Regions from separate parts of the Homo sapiens genome. Here regions 2, 3, 4 and 5 are each linked to region 1. Evidence: fine-mapped expression QTL. A gene starts in region 1. Each other region holds a variant in brackets. All regions are shown on one strand. Distances are from middle to middle.

The links. PIP is the estimated chance that this variant, and not a neighbour inherited with it, causes the effect. A credible set is the group of variants that fine-mapping cannot tell apart.
Region 2: its variant is the best candidate, but not a certain one, in a credible set for the expression of ZNF518B in pituitary (GTEx, PIP 0.54).
Region 3: its variant is the best candidate, but not a certain one, in a credible set for the expression of ZNF518B in whole blood (INTERVAL, PIP 0.56).
Region 4: its variant is the best candidate, but not a certain one, in a credible set for the expression of ZNF518B in visceral fat (GTEx, PIP 0.90).
Region 5: its variant is the best candidate, but not a certain one, in a credible set for the expression of ZNF518B in whole blood (TOPMed, PIP 0.59).

The regions. Positions count from the first base shown.
Region 1 is chr4:10,455,223-10,460,328 of GRCh38, reverse strand. It overlaps ZNF518B (zinc finger protein 518B), which reads left to right and starts at 2,903. Exons shown (of 3, transcript NM_053042.3): 1 at 2,903-3,012. RefSeq lists a silencer at 2,788-3,427 and enhancers at 3,558-3,717, 2,980-3,795, 3,778-3,837.
Region 2 is chr4:10,423,901-10,429,006 of GRCh38, reverse strand. No RefSeq gene overlaps it. Among named protein-coding and RNA genes, the nearest start is that of ZNF518B, 31 kb to the left of the region's middle. The variant C/A (reference allele first, on the strand shown) is at 2,079.
Region 3 is chr4:10,414,224-10,419,329 of GRCh38, reverse strand. No RefSeq gene overlaps it. Among named protein-coding and RNA genes, the nearest start is that of ZNF518B, 41 kb to the left of the region's middle. The variant A/T (reference allele first, on the strand shown) is at 2,165.
Region 4 is chr4:10,498,074-10,503,179 of GRCh38, reverse strand. It overlaps CLNK (cytokine dependent hematopoietic cell linker), which reads left to right. Exons shown (of 19, transcript NM_052964.4): 18 at 1,769-1,924. The region is part of intron 2 of LOC105374482 (a long non-coding RNA gene); the gene reads right to left. Among named protein-coding and RNA genes, the nearest start is that of ZNF518B, 43 kb to the right of the region's middle. The variant T/C (reference allele first, on the strand shown) is at 2,470.
Region 5 is chr4:10,482,038-10,487,143 of GRCh38, reverse strand. CLNK (cytokine dependent hematopoietic cell linker) reads left to right here. Exons shown (of 19, transcript NM_052964.4): 19 at 1-749. Among named protein-coding and RNA genes, the nearest start is that of ZNF518B, 27 kb to the right of the region's middle. The variant C/T (reference allele first, on the strand shown) is at 2,557.

The sequences.
Region 1 (5,106 bases):
TTTGGTTTTTTTTTTTTTTTTTTTGAGACAGAGTCTTGCCCTGTTGCCCATGCTGGAGTGCAGTGGCTCGTTCTTGGCTCACTACACCCTCCGTCTCTTGGGTTCAAGCAATTCTCGTGCCTCAGCCTCCTGAGTAGCTGGGATTACAGGCGCCCGCCACCACGCCCAGTTAATTTTTGTATTTTTAGTAGAGGCGGGGCTTCACCATGTTGGCCAGGCTGTTCTTGAACTCCTGACCTCAGGTGATCTGCCCGCCTCGGCCTCCCAAAGTGCTAGGATTACAGGCATGAGCTACTGCGCCCAGCCCAATACATGTTTTGTTGAATGCATGAGTGAATGAATGAACGTTGGCTCCCAAATCTTATACTCAAGGACTGGTTCATGTCTTCCTTCTTCTCTCCTACATTAGGTAGTCATAACTAGGAGGGTGCATTGATTTCTTAGGGTGGCTGTACCAAACAAACATGTATTGTCTCACAGTTCTGTCGGCTCAGAAGTCTGAAATCAAGGGGTCCACAGGGCCATGCTCCCTCTGAACCCTCTAGGGGAGGATCCTCCCTGCCTTTTCCATCTTCCAACAGCCGTTGGTTTGTGGCTGTGTACTCCAATCTCGGCCTCTGTCCATGGCTTCTTCTCCCTGTGTGTCTCCATGTCTTCTCATGGCATTTTCTTCTCTGCGTCTCTTCACAGAGACACAGAATGGTGTCCCTTGTAAGGACACCATTCACATTGGATAAGGGCCCACCCTAATGACCTTGTCTTACATCTGTAAAGACCGTGTTTCCAAATAAGGTCATATCCATAAGTTGGGGGTGGGGGATATTAGCGCTTCAACGTATTTTTCTGGGAAACATAATTCAACTCGTGACAGAAGTGATCCACGGAATTTAGGCAAACTAAGCTGGGGGGTGGAGAAGAAGACATGAAGGGCAGACGTGTAGGGAACGTGTGATGATTCACATTTGCAAGCATCAAAAGACTTTTAGGGACATCAGCCTTAAAGGTTTCTGCTGAAGTAGTTTCTATTTTTCCTTGACCCTTTTTCAGGCTGTAAACACTCCATTTCCAGACACTCCACAAAGCATTTCATCTCCCTGAATTTGGGCTACTGAAGAGTAAGTTAACAGTCACTTCTATCTGCCAGGGACTGTGATAAGTCCTGACTTGCTTTCTCTTGTTTAATGTTGACAACCCCCTTGGGAGGAAGGACCTATTTTTCACTGAATTTTACATGAGAAACTGAGGTTCAGACAGGCTCACAACTTCTATGTGGCCGAACTGGGATTTATAACCAGTTCTCACTTCAGAAAAACTCCCAGGAGACCCACAGGTACCTTACATCAATTCTGTGTGACTTAAGAGGGCAGAACTGTGATGCATGAGTAGAAGTTATAAGGAGAGTTGCCTCTCCTTATAAAGTTTAGGACAATTTTCTAATGTCTAGACCTCAGATTCTCCAATACTTAGAATTAATAGTTTTTCCTGATGTGGCTCTGTTTGCCACTAGAGATTTTCAGGCAGTGGCTCCTAGTTTGGATTCTCAATGCCTTTCCCAACTTGACCCTACTCTTGAGGGAGACTTTGAACTCTCTGGCATATTCTCTCTGATAGGTGCTATCTGCACATAAATGTGTTTTTCTGAGAAGAGGTTCCTTAGCTTTTCTGAGCCCTAGGAGATAGAAAACCAGGACCCTAGCAGCTCCCTGATCAGGACCGAGGTTAGGAGCACTGCAGCCTAGGGCAGGAAGAAGGATTTGCTCTCTGGGCTGCTATTTTCTCTGCCCAGCTCCTGATACTTTAGTGGTGGAGGTTTTGCCCAGCTGCTGGACTTGTGGCTGAGCCTGTCTTCTTCAACTCCGCTTCTCCGTGTGGCAGTACTGCCCAGGCCCACATCTCCTCCGTGCAGCATACTGGCCGCTGTCCGTGCACGCCGACCTTTGGCCGCCAACAGGAAGGTGATGGAAACCAGCCTTGCCCCGCCCCCGCCTCCAGAGCTTTGAAATAAACTTTAGCTGTTCATCCCGAAGAAACTGTACTTCCCAGTGACGCTGCTCCCATGCCTCAACCTGCCCCTGCTGGAGAGCTGTTTCACTTTGTGGGGAGTCACTGATTGTGCGGGACCTGGCAATATGGTCTTCTTCTTTCCTCTTAGAGGCTCTATTCTAAATATGTCTTCCTTCCGGACCGTAGATGCAGGTGTATCTAGAGGGCAGTTGGCTCGCCCAAAATAGCACCGAAGTCCAGGAGGCAGGAAAGAAACTCTGGCATTAAATGAGCTCACACCCTCTCCAGACTCCCACAGTCATTGTCCCCTCTGACCCTCGCAACGCCCAACTGCTAGAGGAGGCTTTGCGCCTCACATACGACCTTCCCCGTCTTCAGAAATGAAGACACTGAGAGAGGTCAGGGGACTTTCTCGCCAAGGTCCAGCAGCTAAGATGTAAAGGAGTAGGGAGAGTCAGGATTTGTACCCAGGACTTCAAGGCCATCTCCTTCACTGAAGCTCTCCAAGAAGACGAGTTTGGAGGCTGAGGACCTGAGCTCCTCTTCTCTCGCTTTCACTCACCCACTGCAGGACTGCAGGCTCCAGGGAGGCAGGCGCCAAGGCCGCCCTCCGCGGGACCCGGTACAAGGCAGGCGCCCCGGGATGGCAGACTGGGCCAGGACCGAAGCCGAATCCTTCTTTTGCCTGCGGCATGGCTAAATGTGGACCTCGCTCGCTACGGTGCGAACGTGTTGGGTCAAGCTCTAAGCCCAGAAGTGGGGCTCGGCTGGGTCTGAGGCTCCCCGCTCTGGACAGCTTAGAAGCCCGGCGGGGGCGGGCGCAGCCTTAGAGACCTCAGGCGCCGGCCTCGCTGGAGCCGCGCCGCCGCTTCACATTGCGCACGCGCGGGGCTGGCGCGGGCTCCGCCCCCCGGGTAGGGACCTACAGCGGGCGCGGCGCCGGCGGTCTGCGGCCGGCGGTGTAGACGCCCCTTCGCCGGGACCTGGCACCCGAATCCGGCCTGCCGGGTAAGTAGCTGAGCGGGAGGGCGAGGGCCCCCGGATCCGCGTGTACGTGACCGAAGCGCCAGCTGCGGCCGGGTCGTGGGGGCGCGCGGGGCGGGGGCCTGACGGGGCCAGGCCGGGGCGGGTCGAGCGGCCGCGGCCCCGCGTGCCCGCGCTGAGGGCTGGCGTCGTGGCAAGTGGCACCGGGTAGGCCGAACGCGGGCTCCGGCTGGTGGGCGTGGGGCACCGGCTGGGGTGGGGGCCCGGGCCGCGGCTTGGCGCGCGTTGAGCAGGTACGCGGGCCTGGCCTAGGGTCGGGGTCCGGCCCGGCGCCCCCAGCTCGCCTTTGTGCGCCGCGACCCCGCGGACTCGGCCGACGCGCCGGGGCGACCGAGGCGGGGGTGGCAGCGTCCCGCGGGGCCGTTCGTGTGGCGCCGCTGGCCCGGCCTGCGCTCCCCGCCCCCAGCGTTATGAAGGATGCCTCCTCCGAGGGCTCCTACCGTCCGCGCCGAGCAGGAAGTGTCGTCAGGAGGCCATTTTTAAAGCCTCCTGCGGGCCTCGGAGCTGAGCGTTGACGGTTTTGGTTTTCTTCGGTTGGAAGAACCCCGGCCTTCCCTCGCGGCGAGCGGGACGCGCCTGGGAGACGACGATGCGCCCGATGCACCTGGCCTCGTCCTCCGAGCGCCCAGGCTCAGGCGCGCTCGCCTCGGATGCTGCCTGCCATCGGGGGAGCGTGCCGACAATAAACTCGAAAACCAGCCTGGCATTGTCTTTCCTTGAGAGGGTCAGGGGTGGGCTCGTCCATCGAGGTCCTGCGCATCTTTTACGGGGGGCGAGGACATAGGAGGTTGAGAAGAGATGGTGAAGGTTTGAATTGTTCCAAATGCTGATGTCATTGTGGGACCTCCCCATACCGGCCTGCCCGTCTTATCTTGGTGTCTTTGGGGTTTGGGGCTCTGTAAAGCCAAGAAATTGCAGGGTTCAAAAGAATGAAAGTTTCTTAACCAGAAAGGAAAAGCCAAAAGAGCGAACGGGAGAAAACACTTAAGTCTTTATAAGTTGGGTAGTTAATGTATCCCGTTACAATACCTCTGACTTTAAAAATTGTAATAATGAACGATTTATCAACGTAACATTAAAAAAAAAAACTACAGAGCATTATGTCCTATTTAAAAGTACAAATCTACGTAGCTAAACTCTAATGTTGTGTTAGACTCTTTAAACCATCTTAAGTTTAGACTTGAAATCACCAAGAATTAAGACAAACCTGGGTCTCTAGAAGCTTGCAGTACTCTTCTACAGTAGAGCAGAGACTGAGGATGGGAATACATCTCTTTTCTCTCTCTTGAGTCACATATGCAAAGTTCAGCCCAGCATATGATGTCAGTACACAGCCAAGGGTTCAGAAAATATTGTTTTAGAAACCAATGTTATATACTGTTGTCTCTTTGAGTAGAATACAAATAGTTCTTTTTTAAAATTGTGTGATATTGATATCTTTAACTAGGATGCAATTTTTAAAAGTTACTTTCATCTTGGATCAAATTTAGCCTTCAAAAATAACACTTTTTTGCGTAGACAGTTTGCTATGCTGATAACATTCATTGCAAATGCAATTTGAAAAGAGCAGACAAAGGATGGCATTCCTTTATTTATTGGGACTCCTTTCTGATGTATTATACCCGATCTGAAGATCTTAAAAATGCAAAATGGCAATTAAAAAAATCCATTTAGATCTCTAGAGATTTATTTGCCTTTAAGTAAGGGCATCGGGGCCAGTTTTTGTGCAAAAGGAAGAACAAAGAACATTTTATTTTTGTCTCTGTGAAGCCTGCTCTTTCATTCATTCATTCACTCATTCTTTCAACCAGTACGAACCTTATTGAGTGCCTTCCTTGGCCAAACCCTTCGCTATTGATCATGATAAACAAGATCCTTACCAGGGAGGGTTTCCCCAATCATGATTGTTCTCAAACTGCCTGCTGTCTACTGCATTTTCTTTGTTATGCAAACTCAGCTAACTGCAATTTCCAGGATTCATCCTTGGAGTGAAAGCAGCTACAGATCAGCCAGTCTAAACATTGTCATCATAGGGTGAGGGTGGGGAGGCATCAAAAT
Region 2 (5,106 bases), 31 kb after region 1:
ATATGTATACCTCTAGTTTCCCCATTGCCAAGATCTCCTTCAGAAGTACTTATATTTCTCTACTTAAGACCACAGCCAGGGGCAGAACTAGTTTTTTGAGGTGAGGTGGACATTTACACAAATTTTGGACCCTCCTTCAAATAATAAAAAATTGGCTGGGTGCAGTGGCTCACTCCTGTAATCTGAGCATTTTGGGAGGCTGCAGTGGGTGGATTGCTTAAGCTCAGGAGTTCAAGACCAGCCTGGGCAACATAGTTAAACCTCGTTTCTACAAAAAAATAAAAATAAAAATAGAAAAAATTAGCAGGGCATGGTGGTGCATGCCTGTCGTCCGACCTACTCAGGAGGCTGAGGTGGGAGGATTGTTTGAGCCCAGGAGGTGGAGTCTGCAGTGAGCTGTGATGGCATCACTGTACTCCAGCCTGGGTGACAGAGCAAGAACCCATCTCAAAAATAATAATAATAATAATGTGGGCTGGCAAGATGACCAAATAGGAACAGAACCAGTTTGCAGCTCCCAGCGAGATCAATGCAGAAGGCAGGTGATTTCTGCATTTCCAACTGAGGTACCCGGCTCATCTCACTGGGACTGGTTAGACAGTGGGTGCGCCCACAGAGGGCAAGCCAAAGCAGGGTGGGGGCGTCACCTCACCTGGGAAGCACAAAGGGTTGGGGAACTCTCTCCTAGCCAAGGGAAGCTGTGAAGGACTGTGCTGTGAGGAACAGTGCACTCTGGCCCAGATACTATGCTTTTCCCACGGTTTTCACAAGCTGCAGTCCAGGAGATTCCCTTGGGTGCCTATGCCACCAGGGCCCTGGGTTTCAAGCACAAAACTAGGCGGTCATATGGGCAGACACTGAGCTAGCTGCCGGAGATTTTTTCATACCCCAGTGGTGTCTAGAATGCCAGTGAGACAGAACCATTCACTCGCCTGGAAAGGAGGCTGAAGCCAGGGAGTCGAGTCAAGTGGTCTAGCTCAGTGGATCCCACCCCACGGAGCCCAGCAAGCTAAGATCCACTGACTTGAAATTCTTGCTACCAGCACAGCAGTCTGAAGTCGACCTGGGACACTCGAGCTTGGTTGGGGGAGGGGCATCTGCATTACTGAGGCTTGAGTAGGCGGTTTTCTCCCTCACGGTGTAAACAAAGCCACCAAGAAGTTCGAACTGGGAGGAGCCCACAGAAGCTCAGCAAAGCCACTGTACCCAGACTGCCTCTCTACATTCCTCCTCTCTGGGCAGGGCATCTCTGAAAGAAAGGCAGCAGCCCCAGTCAGGGGCTTATAGATAAAACTCCCATCTCCCTGAGATAGAGCACCTGGGGGAAGGGGCAGCTGTGGGTGCAGCTTCAGCAGACTTAAACATTCCTGCCTGCTGGCTCTGAAGACAACAGCGGATCTCCCAGCACAGTGCTTGAGCTCTGCTAAGGGACAGACTGCCTCCTCAATTGGGTCCCTGACCCCTGTGCCTCCTGACTGGGAGACACCTCCCAGTCAGGGAGGTGGCATCTGGCAGGTGTCCCTCTGGGATGAAGCTTCCAAAGGAACAGGTAGCAATCTTTGCTGTTCTACAGCCTCTGCTGGTGATACCCAGGCAAACAGGGTCTAGAGTGGACTTCCACCAGACCTGCAGCATACGGGCCTGACTGATAGAAGGAAAACTAACAAACAGAAAGGAATAGCATCAACATCAACAAAAAGGACATCCACACAGAAACCCCATCTGAAGGTCACCAACATCAAAGACCAAAGGTAGATAAATCCACGAAGATGAGGAAAAAACAGCACAAAAAGCCTGAAAATTCCAAAAACCAGAAAGCCTCTTCTCCTCCAAAGGATCACAACTCCTTGCCAGCAAGGGAACAAAACTGGATGGAGGATAAGTTTGATGAAGTGACAGAAGTAGGCTTCAGAAGGTGGGTAATAAACTCCTCTGAGCTAAAGGAACATGTTCTAACCCAATGCAAGGAAGCTAAGAACCTTGAAAAAAGGTTAGAGGAATTGCTAACTAGAACAACCAGTGTAGAGAAGACTGGTAGAGATGACTTGATGGAGCTGAAAAATAAAATATGAGAACTT[C/A]ATGAAGCATACACAAGTATCAAAAGCCGAATTGATCAAGCAGAAGAAAGGATATCAGATATTGAAGATCAACTTAATGAAATAAAGTGTGAAAACAAGATTGGAGAAAAATGAATGAAAAGGAATGAACAAAACCTCCAAGAAATATGGGACTATATGAAAAGACCAAACCTATTTTTGATTGGTGTACCTGAAAGTGACAGGGATAATGGAATCAAGTTGGAAAACACCCTTCAGGATATTATCCAGGAGAACTTCCCCAACCTAGCAAGACAGGCCAACATTCAAATTCAGGAAAGACAGAGAACACTATAAAGATACTCCTCGAGAAGAGCAACCCCAAGATGTATAATCTTCAGATTCACCAAGGTTGAAATGAAGGAAAAAATGTTAAGGGCAGCCAGAGAGAAAGGTCGGATTACCCACGAAGGGAAGCCCATCAGACTAACAGCAGATCTCTCTGCAGAAACCCTACAAGCCAGAAGAGAGTGGGGGCCAATATTCAACATTCTTAAAGAATTTTCAACCCAGAATTTCATATCCACCCAAACTAAGCTTCATAAACGAAGGAGAAATAAAATCCCTTACAGATAAGCAAATGCTGAGAGATTTTTGTCACCACCAGGCCTGCCTTACAAGAGCTCCTGAAGGAAGCACTAAATATGGAAAGGAAAAACCGGTGACAGCCACTGCAAAAACATACCAAAGTGTAAAGACCTTCAACACCATGAAGAAACTGCATCAACTAATGGGTAAAATAACCAGCTAGCATCATAATGACAGACCAAATTCACACATAACAATATTAGCCTTAAATGTAAATAGGCTAAATGCCCCAATTAAAAGACACAGACTAGCAAATTGGATAGAGTCAAGACCCATCAGTGTGCTGTATGCAAGAGACCCAACTCACATGCAAAAACACACATAGGTTCAAAATAAAGGGATGGACAAATATTTACCAAGCAAAGGAAAAGCAAAACAAACAAAAAAACAAAACAGCGTTTGCAATCCTAGTCTCTGATAAAACAGACTTTAAACCAACAAAGATCGAAAAAGACAAGGGCATTACATAATGGTAAAGGGATCAATGCAACAAGAAGAGCTAACTATCCTAAATATATATGTACCCAATACAGGAGCACCCAGATTCATAAAGCAAGTTCTTAGAGACCTACAAAGAGACTCAGACTCCCACACAATAATAGTGGGAGACTTTAACACCCCACTGTCAATATTAGACAGATCGAGACAGAAAATTAACAAGGATATTCAGGACTTGAACTCAGCTCTGGACCAAGTGGACCCAATAAACTTCTACAGAACTCGCCACCCCAAATCAACAGTATATACATTCTTCTCAGCACCACATCACACTTACTGTAAAATTGACCACATAATTGTATGTAAAACACTCCTCAGCAAATGCAGAAGAATGGAAATCATAACAAACAGTCTCTCAGACCACAAGGCAATCAAATTAGAACTCAGGATTAAGAAACTCCCTCAAAACTGCACAACTACATGGAAACTGAACAACCTACTCCTGGATGACTACTGGGTAAATAACGAAATTAAGGCAGAAATAAATAAGTTATTTGAAATCAATGAGAACAAAGACACAAAGTGCCAGAATTTCTGGGACACAGCTAAGCAGTATTTAGAGGGAAGTTTGTAGCACTAAATGTCCACAGGAGAAAGCAGGATATATCTAAAATCGACACCCTAACATCACAATTAAAAGAACTAGAGAAGCAAGAGCAAATGCATTCAAAAGCTAGCAGAAGACAAGAAATAACTTAAGATCAGAGCAGAACTGAAGGAGATAGAGAAATGAAAAACCCTTCAAAAAAATCAATGAATCCAGAAGCTAGTTTTTTGAGGATTAACAAAATAGGTAGACCACTAGCCAGACTAATAAAGAAGAAAAGAGAGAAGAATCAAACAGACACAATAAAAAATGATAAAGGGGATATCACCACTGATCCCACAGAAATACAAACTATCATCAGAGAATACTATAAACACCTCTATGCAAATAAACTAGAAAATCTAGAAGAAATGGATAAATTCCTGGACACAGTCACCCTCTCAAGACTAAACCAGGAAGAAGCTGAATCCCTGAATAGACCAATAACAAGTTCTGAAATTGAGGCAGAAATTAACAGCCTACCAACCAAAAAAAAAAAAAAGCCCAGGACGAGATGGATTCACAGCCAAATTCTACCAGAGGTAAAAAGAGGAGCTGGTACCATTCCTTCTGAAACTATTTCAAACAATAGAAAAAGAGGGACTCCTCCCTAACTCATTTTATGAGGTATTATCCTGATACCAAAACATGGTAGAGACACAACAAAAAAAAGAAAATTTCAGGCCAATGTCCCTAATGAACATCAATGAGAAAATCCTCAATAAAATACTGGCAAACTGAATCCAGCAGCACATCATAAAGCTTAGCCATCACGATCAAGCAGTCTTCATTCCTGGGATGCAAGGCTAGTTCAACATATGCAAATCAATCAATGTAATCCATCACATAAACAGAACCAATGACAAAAACCACATGATTATCTCAATAGATGCAGAAAAGGCCTTCAATAAAATTCAACACCCCTTCATGCTAAAAACTCTCAATAAACTAGGTATTGATGGAACATATCTAAAAATAATAAGAGCTGTTTATGACAAACTTGCAGCCAAAATCATACTGAGTGGACAAAAGCTGGAAGCATTTCCTTTGAAAACCGGCACAAGACAAGGATGCCCTCTCTCACCACTCCTATTCAACATAGTATTGGAAGTTCTGGCCAGGGCAGTCAGGCAAGAGAAACAAATAAAGGGTATTCAAATAAGAAGAGAGGAAGTCAAATTGTCTCTGTTTGCAGATGACATGATTGTATATTTAGAAAACCCCATTGTCTCAGCCCAAAATCTCCTTAAGCTGATAAGCAACTTTAGCACAGTCTCAGGATACAAAATCACTGTGCAAAAATCACAAGCATTCCTGTACACCAATAATAGAGAGCTA
Region 3 (5,106 bases), 41 kb after region 1:
GATCTTTTCTTCCATTATATGTTGATCATTGTTTTTTTTTAAACAATGATCTTTTTTTAAAAAATGCTACTAGTTTCTATATATTAAAGTTCCAACTTGTCACATTTATGTAGTATTAGTAGATACTAAAATAATTCATAGAAAATTAGTATACATATTTAGAAATAATTATTGCAAATAACATACCAAGTTCTTCTTATACCTATTTTTTTCTTCTATTTAACTGCTTTGACTAGCACATTCAGAACAATATTAACTACTACTAGTTATTCAGAAGGCTGAGAAGGTAGGATTGCTTGAGCCTAGGGGTTTGACACTGGCCTGGGCAGTATACCAAGACACATCTCTAAAAAAAAAAATTAAAATAGCACTACTAATATCAAATCTAGTGTTAGTACTAGTAAGTATCAGATTACTTTTGGTATTTCACTCTAATCCAGGCTTATTGCTTTGGGTGGAGGAATCTGATTAGAAACATATATAACTTGCTAGATATTAAAATCCATATTCCCATATGTACTTAGGTCTGCAGGTAAACGTACTATTCTATACAGTTATTTTCTTTTCCTGTATTACATTCTCAATTATTGAACTTTATAATAAACTTTAACATCTACAATCTGATAATTACTTTTTGGGAAGGGTTGTTGAGTTTTTTTTTCAAATGTCTTTCACATTGTAATGATTATATGGGAGTTTTTTCCTCCTTGGGGCTATTAATAAAGTAAATCATTGAACCATCCTGAATTCCATTTAATGATTGTATTATTGATACCATTCCTGTTGTTACTATTGATACTATTATACCCAACAAAATATAGTTTATACACATGTTCCTAGTGGGCCTCCTAATATTTTACATTGATTTAGAGATTTGATACTCAAAGCATTAGTTCCTTAAAATTAATGGCAAACATGTCATTCCTACATAATTCAGTAGCCAGCCCTTTAAAAAAGATATTTTTCTTACATAAATCAAAATATTATACCCCCAAAATTATGAATAACTCTTTGTTATTGTCTAATACCCAATCTATATTCAAATATCCCTAATTGTCTCAAAATGTATTGTTCAAATTAAGATCTAAACAAAGTACTTGCATTTCATTTGCTTATTTTCTTAGCTATCTAACTTGGCTCTGGATGCTATCTGTAAACAGCACAAGTAGTAACTGAATTTGAGGCAGGTGGTCTGAGGCTAACTTCATATGACTTGCAAGAAGCCTACAGGAATGCCTTGAGCCCCGCAAGAAATACAGCTGTCTTTGCAGATTAAAGTCCTGGCCTGCAAATTTGGCTAAGAAACAAGAAAAATAGCAACATCCACCAAAGTCAAGTCAGCCGCACTGGAAAGATTTGCCTCTTTGGAATGGAGCCTTAACCAAAGCTCAAACACACTTTTCCTATTATTTTCGCCTGAGCCGTCCTTTGCCAACGGAATGACTACACATGCCCGAGTCAGTTCAGGTCAGTGCTAGAGCATCACAGGGCCCTGCTTCCTAAGTCCTAATCAGCTTGACCAAGTAGAAACAGTTGTTCATCATGAGCAATGGAGAAAGATGCTTCCATGATCCACCAACTGCTCTTGTACTAATATTTGAGGTTTGGGGCCCTGGCAAGGCCCAAAGCCTTGATCTGACTCCTTATTAGTTGTGTTCCCAGCCACCAGAATTTCTCTCTCAACACATCTGGCCAATGGATCAAGATCTTACAAGATATTAACATTAGTTAGCTGATACGGTTTGGCTGTGTCCCCACCCAAATTTAATCTTATAGTTCCCATAATTCTCATGTGTCATAAGAGGGATCCAGTGGGAGGTAATTGAATCATGGGGGCAGTTACCGCCATGCTGTTCTCATGATAGTGAGTTCTCATGAGATCTGATGGTTTTATAAGGGGCTTTTCACCCCTCTTGTCTCTTCTCTTTGCTGCTGCCATGTGAGGAAGGATGTGTTTGTGTCCCTTTCTGCCATGATTGTAAGTTTCCTGAGGCCTCTCTAGCCCTGCAGAACTGTGAGTCAATTAAACCTCTTTCCTTTATAAATTATCCCAGTCTTGGGTATTTCTTCGTTTCTTCATAGCAGCGTGAGAATGGACTAATACATTAGCCTTCAACATTTTTTTTTTTTCTTAACTCGTGTTCTGTCACCCAGGCTAGAATGC[A/T]GTGGTGTGATCATGGCTTACTGCAGCCTCGACTTCCTGGGCTCAGGCAAACCCCCTACCTCAGCCTTTTGAGTAGCTGGGACTACAGACATGCACAGCCATGCCTGGCCAATTTTTTGCACGTGCACGTGAGTGTGTGTGTGTGTGTGTGTGTGTGTGTGGAGATGGGGTCTACATTATGTTGTCTAGGCTGGTCTGGACTTCCTGAGCTCAAGTGATCCTGCCATCTCAGTCTCCCCAAGTGCTGGGATTACAGGCATGAGCAATGGGCCTAGCGCCTTCAACTTTTCTGTCTACTCCCAAATTAGGAAATCAACCAAGGAATAACACAGAAGTCAGACGGAGTTAAATACCTTAATTTCATTTCTGGCAACTAGATTGGAGAACACAGTTGACACATGTGGTCATAATAAGCCTCTTGAGATTTCACATGCTATAGATAGCTGCCATCCAGTCACTGAGCCTGCAGGACATCAAAGTCTTCTTTACAGAATCAGCGGGGCCCTGTTAGTGCCCCACAAAAGGGAGTAGGAGACAACACACATCCTGTGGGTTGGGGGAACCCACAAAAGAATGATCACCCTGGTGAGCAGCCACACAGGCTCAGCTCATTACCCAAACAGGATGGGACCCCTTTACTCCTCCTCTGAGCCAAAGCAAAGTTCACAAGGAAGAGAGCTGGAAGTGCTCTTCATATACTTCTGGATAGTAGAACAGAAAGTCCCTTCTCCATGTAAAAATGTGAGGAATGCGGGTAATAAAACCTTACGGGAAATAAAACCTAAAAGGGGAACTGGCAGTGACATGTTAGGACCACTCTTTTCAGTTACTAGGTGTACACAAAAAAAAGTGTTAGGTGCTCCTGTGCGCCAGCACTCTGATAAGTGTTACATGGACCTTATATGATTTTCTCCTTTCAATAGCACTTAAGGAAAATAATCTCCCCAGGATCACCCAGCTAGTGAATGTTAAACTTCTTGAGTCCTGGTTGCTCTGCCTATAAAAAGGACAGATTCAACCATTTCCAAACTCACTGCTTTTTCATATAAACCAAGCTAGCCAGGTGCAGTGGCTCACACTTGTAATTGCAGCTGCTCATGAGGTTGAGGTGAAAGAATCACTTGAGCCCAGGAGTTTGAGACCAGCCTGGGCAATATAACGAGACCCCATATTTAAAAGATAGAATAATAACCAAACCACTTTTGGAAGTCTGACTCATGAAACAAACTAAGCTAACCAGCCTTTTCTCCTGGGCATCTAGTTCCGACTCAGTAACTCCTAGACTTTGTAACTACCTAAGCACCATGTATTGACCATCTATTCCCACAGGATTGGGGTGGGGGTGAAAAGCAGAAAGGATGGTAAAAACTGAGTATTTAACATTCCCCTAGACTCTGTTTTTACAGAAAGCTATAAATCTTCGGCTGGGCCTAGCTAATGTGTTGTAATAAAAGGAGATGTTGATTCGATTTTTACAATCCATCATTCCAAGGCCAGAGAAAAACAGGAAAAGAGATGCTTTTCTTGGAAGGAAGAGAACGTTTGTCAAATTGTTTCTACTTACTTGTATTCACACATCCTGTCTCTCCTAATATCTCACCTGTCAGAGACTAACAGGATAAAAGCAGACAGGTAGAATGGCTTTAAATTATGTGTATTGAGAAAAATAATGAAAAACAGCATGCAAAAGAATTCAAGGAAATTAACATGGTTGCTGCTTAGTTCTCTCCTGCTCCCCACTGGAGGCTGAGGAGGAAGATAACATTTCTATTCAATTCAATCCAAAAATTGTTAGGAAATGGAGATGCAAACATTATGACATGGCCCTCAAGGAACTCAGAATAGATGAGAAGGTAAGTCTGATACATATGCTAAGAGCAATGAGAGTGATGAGCCTAGGGTAACAGATGCAGACTCCCCCACCCAAGGATGCCTTTGGAAGAGATGATATCTGAGCCAAGTCAGAGGTTGTGCAGCAGTGAGCCAGCAAAATGAATAGTGGGACAAAGTCAGCAATAAGAGCATTCTAGGCAAAGGAAATACAAACAACAAAAAAATGTCCAACATCTACCAGGCCTTGCTGCCTTCTGATACTGTCTTAAGTGCTTTTCATGCAATCTTAACTCAGATGATACTGTGCTCAATGAAACCGCTACTATCAGCATCCCTATTTTTCAAATCTAACAATAAGGCTGTAAAAGTTAAGTAGCTTGCCCAAGCAGTAGGTGGTACACATCAGAATGAGGATTTGAACTCAGGTCAGTATGATTCTAAAGCCTCATTTTTTAATAGCAACAAGCTACACTGCTCTCCCAAAGTGATGAGCAAAGGTACCAAATGTGGGTGACAGCATATCACTAGTGGGTAATGACTACAAAGAGTGCTGTTTCCAGATGGTAATGTGGGAAGCAGAGAGCAGCTAAAGATACATGAAACTTTTTTTTTTTTTGAGACGGAGTTTCGCTCTTGTTGCCCAGGCTGGAGTGCAATGGCACAGTCTCGGCTCACTGCAACCTCTGCCTTCCGGGTTCAAGTGATTCTAGCTGGGATTACAGGCGCCCACCACTACACCCAGCTAATTTTTGTATTTTTAGTAGAGACGGGGTTTCACCATGTTGGCCAGGCTGGTCTCAAACTCCTGACCTCAGGCGATCCACCCGCCTCGGCCTCCCAAAATACTGGGATTACAGGCATGAGCCACCACGCCAGGCCACATGAAACATTTTATGTATCATGTGAAGAGACTGAATGTTATCCTGGGGTAACAGGATCTCAGAAGACGTTTAAACAGATACATGCCATGGCCAGATGTGTTTTATGTAAATTTATTCTCTTTGGTCTCACACCACAGTAACATGAGAGTAACAAGATCAGAGACAAAAAGACTAGTAAGATCTAATGGTAACCCAGGAAGGAGAGTGTATGAATGAGGATGGTGGGAG
Region 4 (5,106 bases), 43 kb before region 1:
TCTATTCTTCATAGATCACTTATAACCATCTATACAATACACACAATTACACTTACAGATTTTTCAGTGTTTTTCATTATATAAATAACACAATGTAACCACAAAACTAAGCCTGGTAGATGTGTTCACGTTCAGGAGGACTGCTCCATTTCTCAATCTTTTACAACCAGATCTTAGTATCATTCTGAATTATTCTCTGGAGTGTACAAATTATTTCTAATCATTGTCCTGTTCTCAGCTCTTGGACCATTCAATGCTGTTGACCCGCTTTTGGAAACCCTCAGTCTCCACCTCTTGGCTTCTGTCACTCTGAATCTCCTGGTCTTCCGTCATCTTTCAGGCATCTCCGGGCCTTTTCTGTCTTTGCTTCCTTGCCCTATACTGGCCCTCACCTCAACATAGGCTACAATTCCTCCTCCCGTAAAGGGCCTCTCCATTCAGTTTGATATCCATGACTTAAAAGCCCCATGTCTCTTTCAGGAACCCTAATTCTGCATAGACATCTTTCCACACAGAAGTCCAATTTATTAGGTAAAAGTTTTTTCTGCTCAAAGCCTGCTGTGGCTCCCACTATCTCTAGAATAATACCCGAGCATCAAGCAGAAGAGGAAATATGTGAACATTGAGAGATGAATACATCAAGAAGGGGGCAGGAGAAGAGCTTTTCCATGAGGAAGGAGTAGCACATGTGGCATGGTTTGTCTGTGACCCTACACAGATCTCATCTTGAATTGTAATCCCCATAATCCCCACGTGTCTAGGGAGAGACCTGGATCTTGGGGGCAGTTTCCCCCATGCTGTTCTAGTGAGTGAGTTCTCATGAGATAGGATGGTTTTATAAGGGGCTCCTCTCCCTTCACTCCTCACTCTGCTCTCTCCTGCTGCCATGTGAGAAGGTCCAAGCTTGCTTCCCCTTCGCCTTCCGCCTGATTATAAGTTTCCTGAGGCTTCCCCAGCCATGTGGAACTGAGTCAATTAAACCTCTTTCCTTTATAAATTACCCAGTCTCAGGTATTTCTTTATAGAAGTGTGAAAACAGACTAATACATCATGCAAAATCTGGGAGCCCCAAAGCAGATGGTGCCTTTGGGAAATGGTGGCTTGGCTGGAGCCAGGAGCCAGAGGCAGAAAGCTGCAGGAGCAATGAGAGATCAAACTGCAAGATAGGTTGGTCATGCTAAGTTCATGAGCACTATGCCCAGGTCAGTAGGAAATGATGAAAGATTTTCTTTTTTCTTTTTGTTTTTGTTTTGGAACCAGAGTCCTGCTCTGTTGCCCAGGCTGAAGTGCAGTGGCACGATCTTGGCTCACTGCAATCTCTGCCTCCTGGGTTCAAGTGATTCTCCTGCCTCAGCCTCCTGAGTAGCTGGGATTACAGGCGCCCGCCACCATGCCCGGCTAATTCTTGTAATTTTAGTAGAGACGGGGTTTTTCTGTGTTGGCAGGCCTGGTTTCAAACTCCTGACCTCCGGTGATCCGCCTGCCTTGGCCTCCCAAAGTGCTGGGATTACAGGGGTGAGCCACCGCACCTGGCCTCAATGAAAGACTTTCAAGAAGAGAGTGTCAAGATCCAACTGGTACACATCTCAGAAAGTGACAAGAACCCTTAGGCATACAGACACTCAGTAAAAACTTACTGAATTAAAGTGGTTTACCAAAAACTAAATCCATCTGGGAATCTCATGCATGCAGACATCATTGTTGCCACCATTACAAGGGCAGAATGCTGGCGTGTCTGAAAAGATGACTGTTACTCTTTTTGCTTCAGGATGGTAGTTTCTTGGTCCGAGATTGTTCCACAAAATCCAAGGAAGAGCCCTATGTTTTGGCTGTGTTTTATGAGAACAAAGTCTACAATGTAAAAATACGCTTCCTGGAGAGGAATCAGCAGTTTGCCCTGGGGACAGGACTCAGAGGAGATGAGGTGGGTATAACTTAACAGCCTCCCTGTTCCAGGCTAAGCGCAACAAATAAAGGAAGAGTTTGGGGGATGTCACCCTGGAGGAAGAGGATGCCGCCCTGAAGGAGAGGGATGCAGTCTGACCTCCCCACCCCTTCCACAAATATCTGCACATCTTACACTTTGGCCTACCAGGCCAGCGACCAGTTCTGACCATTTCATGCACCCCCATTCCCTGCGTTGCCTGTTAAAGAAAACTCATTCTACAAGACACATCTAAACTCTGCCTCCCAGGAAGCTTCCAGCGGAGCATACACTAATGCCAAATTCCTTTCCCTCCTCAGCACTGAAATGCCACTGCAGACATTTCTGATGTCTGTCAGAATTCCTTATCTATAGACTCGTGTCCCCAAAATGAATGTGAACCCAGCCACAGCATTAGGGCTATGTTGGGCATGCCTGTCCTCAGTACAGATCTGCTGATGGAGGCGAAAGAGTGAATCAATTAAAATATTCGTGAATAACATAAATCAATCCACAAGAAAGGATAAATTTTCACTGACTATGTA[T/C]ATGCCAGGCCTAGTCTATCTGCATTTTTTTTTTTTTTGAGACAGAGACGCACTCTGTCACCCAGGCCAGAGTACAGATCTCGGCTCACTGCAACCTCCTCCTCCCAGGTTCAAGTGATTCTCCTGCCTCAGCCTCCTGAGTAGCGGGAATTACAGGCATGCCCCACCAAACCCGGCTAATTTTTATATTTTAGTAGTGATGGGGTTTCACCATGTTGGTCAGGCTGGTCTCGAACTACTGACTTCAGATGATCTGCCTGCCTTGGCCTCCCAAAGTGCTGGGATTACAGGCGTGAGCCACTGTGCCCAGCCAGCAGTATCTTATTTTGATCCTCAACAACTCTTTGGTGTCATGATTTTTCCTATCTTAGATGTAGGAAAACTGGGGCTCAGAAAATTAAATAAATGGCCAAAGACACACAGGCAGTAACGGAAGGGGGAAGGAGAGGCTTCTCTTGCAACTCTTCTGTTGATGAAGGAAGGGGTAAAGGAAGGAAGGAACGAAGTTAGTTATGAGCCACCATTTCTAAGGATGTGAGCTCAGTCCAGTGACTTAACTTCTCTGGGCTTCAATTTCCTCAAATGTAAATGTTCTTTTAAAGCCTAGACTTCAATAATTTAATGATTCCTGTTTAACATCTCCAGGTCTCAGTTTTATCTGGGGGTGTGCATTGTTATAGGCTGAATCGTGCCTCCCTCATTCCAAAAAACCCACACGTTGAAGTCCTAACCCTCAGTAGCCCAGAATGTGACTGTATTTGAAGATAGGGCTTTGAAAGAGGTAATTAAGGTTAAACAAGGTTATTGGGATGAGTCCTAATCCAATATGAGAGATGTTCTTATGACAAGAGGAGATTAGGACACAGGCACACACAGAGGGGCGACCATGTGAGGACACTGGGAAGGGTCGACCATCTGCAAACCAAGGAGAGGGGTCGTGGGAGAAAGCAGCCTTCCAACACCTTGACCTTGGGACTTCAGCCTCGAGAACTGCGAAGAAAGACATTTCTGTTGTTTAAGCCACCTTGTCTGTAGTGCTTAGTTACGGTAGCCTTGACAAACTAATACAGGATAAAACCAGAACTTTCACACAGATACCGATTGTTCTTCAACAGATAACAAAATAGGGCACATTGCTAGGGCTGCCAACAGGCTTCAGGTAGGCACACGTGTGAAATCGATGCGCAGGCTGCATAAAGATTCCAGCTTAAATCCCGTGTCTGACCAGAGCACTTTTTTGAGACTCGGAGAGGAATAGTCAGCACCTGTGAGGCGACCATGAGGTCAGTTCACCACTGTTAGGAATAACGCTCAAAATCCTAAGGAAATTGAACACTCGAACAAAGGATTCTTAGCAAAGCAATTTTAGTTCTGCACAGAGGGGTGCCTCCTTGGACAGTCGCAATGAGAGCATACCTGAACAAAGGGGCACGAGAGCCTTTATTCCTGACACAAGTCCTGCCCCTGTCCCCTTTCCCCATTGGCTGGGGTCAGGTCTTACAATCTAAACTAATCCCAGTTGGCTAAACATTTGATTTTTTTTAGATAAAGTAGGCATATAAAAGAAAGTGGAGAGGAAGGGGAAGGGGTGTCTGTAATGAGCTAAAAAGTTAGTCCTCTTTCCAAATAAGGAAAGGAATGTGAGCTGGTACTGATAATGCCTGGTACTGTGGCGTGCCTGGGCATCTAACAAAGGCAAAAAGGAAAACAGGAGAAAAAGGACAAGGGTTGGGGGGGGGGGGGTACAATGAATTAAAGAATAAAAGTTTGATCGGATTATTTGAAGAGAATCTTCATCATATCCCACACCACCATTTGCTACAGCCCGGGAACACTGTGACATGAACAAGTGCATGAGTGAATCCATAGATTAATACATAAATCTACCAGGTACAACCACATTAAGAAAGTGCTACGTTAACACGAAAGACAGAAGTGGTCAGTTCTTCATTTTGTGGAGAGGATTGGCAAGTTAATAAATGTAAAACACTTAGAACAGTGCCTGGGACCTATCAAGCCCACAATAAATTTTAGTTATATTTTCATTACTATTCCTGAGTCATTTTAATAAGTAGGATATAGTAGCCCTAAGATGCCTATGGTAATGGACTTTCCAGTTCAGTGTCCCTTTATCCTTCTATATCTTCTCTCAGCTTATAGAATTTCTCATCTTTAGGAAAGCATTATATAATTCTTATTTATTTATTTTATTTTATTTTGAGACGGAGTCTTGCTCTGTCACCCAGGCTGGAGTGCAGTGGCGCGATCTCGGCTCACTGCAAACTCCGCCTGCAGGGTTCACGCCATCCTCCTGCCTCAGCCTCCCGAGTAGCGGGGACTACAGGCGCCCACCACCACGCCCGGCTAATTTTTTTGTATTTTTTTAGTAGAGACGGGGTTTCAGTGTTAGCCAGGATGGTCTCGATCTCCTGACCTCGTGATTCGCCCGCCTCAGCCTCCCAGAGTGCTGGGATTACAGGCGTGAGCCACAGCACCCAGCTTATTTATTTATTCTAAGACGGAGTCTCGTTCTTGTTGCCCAGGCTGGAATGCAATGGCGTGATCTTGGCTCACCACAACCTCTGCCTCCCGGGTTCAAGCGATTCTCCTGCCTCAGCCTCCCGAGTAGCTGGGATT
Region 5 (5,106 bases), 27 kb before region 1:
GTTTAAAAGTATCACTTGATATCTGATTTCAATAGAGTAATAGAATTTTAGCTTTATCCAATTACAGCATTTATGCTTTCCAGATATTTTTTGGACTAAATAATTCTCATTCTGTATAAATGTGCATAGCCCTCATCATTAGTCATATATTGTGTTAGCACCTTTGTGTACTGCATGTGTATTCATTACTAAGCACTATTGTAGATGTTGAAAATAGAGCAGTGAATAAGAGAGATAGATGACAAATAAATATACAAACAAATAAGATAATCTAAGTCAGTTTCCCATTACTGGATTGGATTTCTATTTTAACACTTATTTCTGAGTACTTGTGGGGTGATGCCAACATTAAATGTTTTGAGGAAGCTCCTTTGAGATGGCTTTGAAAAGTCCTAAGTGAGAAAATTTAAAATTTTCCCAAACTTATTTATGTGGGGTGTGCATGTGTGTGCCTGTGCCTGTGTGCGTGTGTGTGTGTGTGTTTTTAAGTAACCGCATCATGGCTGTAATCAGTTAAGTCTCCTGTTCTAATTACTACGGAGGAATCAAATGAACCCCATTGTCGAATGTAGCCAATTATGTATGTGTGTACACAAATACAAATTTTTATGATAGCCTATATTGTATATTAGCATTATATTTGTATATCTTTTTTATTCTGAGCAATATTTGTTCTAGCTAAGCACATTTACATTCATAATTTACAGCCTTACTAATGTAAATAAAAGTAAATATGTAATTGAATGTTATAATTTTCTCTGTCTCTGAGTATTGAAGAAAGAAATTCAAAACATAGTTTAATTTTGTTTCATGCCCTATTACCCCTAAAGCTCTTTTGAAATTATATTTAGGGCAAATTTAGGATAAAATTACCAGAACAATTATTGACATATGAGCATTATGCTAGACTTTGGAGATAAAGACAAAAAAGACACAATCCCTGTGATTGTGAGCTCAGAGCCTGGCCGGAAAGATACACATGTAATAACCATCTTAATATGTGTAAGTTAATATCTCATTGTGGTTTTGATTTGCTTTTTCCCAATGATTAGTGAAATTGAGCACCTTTTCATATGCCTGTTGGCCATTATCAAAAAACAAAAGATAACAAATGTTGGCAAGAATGTGGACCAATGGAAACCCTGTACATTGTTGGTGGGAATGCCAAATGGTGCAGCCACTATGGAAAACAGTACTGGGTTTCCTTAAAAAATTAAAAATGGAACTATTATATTCAGCAATCCCACTTCTGTATATGTATCCAAAATAAATGAAATCAGGATCTTGAAAAGATATCTGCACACCCATATTCATTGCAGCATTATTCACAATTATTCCAAGATATGGAAACAACCTAAATGTCCATCAAAAATGAATAAATGGGCCAGGGATGGTGGCTCAGGTCTGTAATCCTAGCACTTTGGGAGGCCAAGGTGGGCAGATCACTTGAGGTCAGGAGTTCGAAACCAGCCTGGCCAACATGGTGAAACCCCGTCTCTACTAAAAATACAAAAAAAAAATCAGCTGGGCATGGTGGTGGGTGCTTGTGATCCCAGCTGCTCGGGAGGACGACACAGGAGAATCACTTGAGCTCGGGAGGTGGAGGTTGCAGTGAACTGAGATCATGCCACTGTACCCCAGCCTGGGAGACAGAGCAAGACACTGTCTCAAAAAAGAAAAAAAAAATGAATGAATCAATGAATGAACAAAATATGTTATATACATACAACGGAGTATTATTCAGCCTCAATAAAGAAGGAAATCTTGGCATATGTGACAAGGTGGATGAATCTGGAGGACATCATGCTAAGTGACATAGCCAGGCACAGAATGACAAATACTGCATGACTCCACTTATATGAGAAATCTGAAATAAACTCACAGGGACAGAGAATAGAATAGTTGTTGCCAGGAGCTGTGGGGAGAGGGAAATGGAGAGTTGTTGTTCAATGGGTATAAAGTTTCAGTTATACTAGGTGAATAAGTACTAGAGAGCTGCTGTATAGCATTGTGCCTATGGTCAACGAAAATGTATTACCTACTTAAAATTTTTTTAAGAATGTAGATTTCATGTTAATCATGTTAAGTGTTCTTACCACAAAAAGGGAGATGGGGCAGCAGGAAATGTTTGGAGGTGATAGATATGTTTATTGCCTTGAGTGTGATGATGGTGTTATGGATGTATGTGTATCTCGAAACTCATTAAATTAGATACATTAAATATGTCCAGTTTTTTAATATACCAATTATACCTCAATGAAGCTGTTTTATTTTTATTTTTATTTATTTTTTGTGAGACTGAGTCTCGCTCTGTCACCCAGGCTAGAGTACAGTGGCGCGATCTCGGCTCACTGCAAGCTCCGCATCCCGGGTTCACGCCATTCTCCTGCCTCAGGCTCCCAAGTAGCTGGGACTACAGGTGCCCACCACCGTGCCCAGCTAATTTTTTTTGTATTTTTAGTAGAGACAGGGTTTCACCATGTTGGCCAGGATGGTCTCAATCTCTTGACCTCGTGATCCACCCGCCTTGGCCTCCCAAAGTGCTGGGATTACAGG[C/T]ATGAGCCACCGTGCCCTGCCATTTTTTTTTAAAGCTCATCAGCTATCATTAGTATTAGTGTATTTTACGTGTGGCCTAAGATGATTCTTCCAGTGTGGCCCAGGTAAGCCAAAAGATTGAACACTCTACTTCAGGAGTACAGGCATGTTGCCCATTATTGGGTACTCCTGTTTTAGGGGCACTATTCTAGGCCATGGGGAATGAAGCAGTGACTACCTGTTTGAAGGGTAAGTGAATACAATAGAAGCAGCATCTGTAGAGAAAGGACAGATAATTTATTAAGTGGTTCTGGTTAAACTGGCTCACCATATAGAAAAAATACAATTATGTCTCTACCTCAAATCATATAAAATATATTTTACATGAATCAAATACTTAAGAGCAAAAAGCAACTATTAAATTGAGTCTTACATCTTTGTCTAATAATTTTTAAGACTTTGAGATAGGGAAAGAGTTCTTAAGACAAAAACTTAAATCATCAAGGGAAGGATTGATAGATTCATTACACCAAAATTTAAAATGTTTACAAAAGTTAGACAAAGTCAAAAGGCAATTAAACAACCTAATATGTATGAGCAAAGGCTGTAAACAAGTAATTCATACACACTCACAAAGCTGGAATGTCTTAACTTATGCACTCCTGTAAGTTAAGAAAATTAATAACAATTAAGTACAATTAAGAAAATTAATAGGCCGGGAGCAGTGGCTCACGATTGTAATCCCGGCACTTTGGGAGGCCAAGGCGGGCGGAACATGAGTTCAGGAGATCAAGACCAGCCTGGCCAACTTGGTGAAACCCCGTCTCTACTAAAAATACAAAAATTAGCCGGGCATGGTGGCACGTGCCTGTAGTCCCAGCTACTTGGGAGGCTGAGGCAGGACAATTGCTTGATCCCTGGAGGTGGAGGCTGCAGTGAGCCGAGATCACGCCACTCCAGCCTGGGTGACAGAGCGAGACTCCATTAAAAAAAAAAAAAAGAAAACAAAACAAAAGAAAATTAATAAACAGCTAGCTAAAATAATCAAAAACTTAAGTAGAAGGACACATTACTAACAAAAAAGACAAAACAACAGATACTACAGACATTGAAGGGATATTAAAGAACTATCAGAAGTGCTTTTATTCCAGCGGAGTCGAAATAGATAACTTTACAGATGAAAATCAATACAAGAAGAAATAGAAAATTTGAATGGCCCTTCATTGTTAAAAGAAACGAGAAGCTTTCCCACGAAAAAGTCTCTAGACCAAAATGAATCCTAGCAAACCTTTTTAGAAACTAATATCGAGTCAGGTGAGAAGCAAGCAGAGCTGGTGTAGAGGCTTCTTCTCCCAGAGGGGCCTCAAGAGAGAAGGGTTAGCGATGGCATCCTTGATTAGAAAGATCACACAGGCCTGTAAGTTAAGATATCCAGCTTTGCTATTGTGTTTCTATTACAGCTGGTCGGTGATGCAATTAACAGGGGATGCCAATAGCCACTGTCATGGAGCGAATGACATGGAGCCTAATGGAGTGGATGACATAGAGCCTAATGGAGCAGAGTGGGAGATGGGGTCTGGCTTCCCTGGTCCCTAACCCCTCAGCACTAGACAACGGACCCACACAGAGGGAATTTCAGCCTGAATGCTGAGAGGCCTGAAGAGTGAGCAACCCCCATGAGAATGGCAAATGGGCTTCCTGGCTACCTATTTGTGATGGTTAATACTGAGTGTCAACTTGATTGGATTGAAGGATACAAAGTATTGATCCTGGGTGTGTCTGTGAGGGTGTGGCCAAAGGAGATTAACATTTGAGTCAGTGGGCTGGGGAAGACAGGACCGCCGTTAATTTGGGTGGGCACCATCTAATCAGTTGCCAGCATGGCTAGAATATAAACAGGCAGAAAAATAGGAAAAGAGAGACTGACCTAGCCTCCCAGCCTACATCTTTCTCCCGTGCTGGATGCTTCCTGCCCTCAAACATCAGACTCCAAGTTCTTCAGTTTTGGAACTTGGACTGGCTCCCCTTGCTCCTCAGCCTGTAGACAGCCTATTGTAGGACCTTGTGATCATGTGAGTTAATACTTAATAAACTCCCCTTTATATATATATATATTTGTGTGTGTGTGTATACACATTTATTCCATTAGTTCTGTCCCTCTAGAGAACTGGGACTAATACAGATTTTGGTACTGGCAGTCCATAAGATGAAAGTAAAATGAGCAAATGAACCCTAGAACATTCCTCAGTGCTTATTGGGAGGCCTGGCAAAGGATGATTACCCAGAAGACTCCCCAGCATTTCCAGGCTTCATGTGGTTCTGACAGCTACTTCTACAATAGCAGCCAGAGAAACGTTAATTAAAATAGCAACTACATAGCACTTTCACCCATCACACTGGGTGAAATTAAACATTCAGATAATGTCAAAAGCTGATGAGGATGTACAAAATAAAATTTTCATCTACTAGTTGGAACATCAATCGGTATAGCATTTTGGAAAGCAATTTAGCAGTATTTAGTAAAATACAAAATGTATGCACCCACTGTAATAAGGCTTCCAATTAAAACAT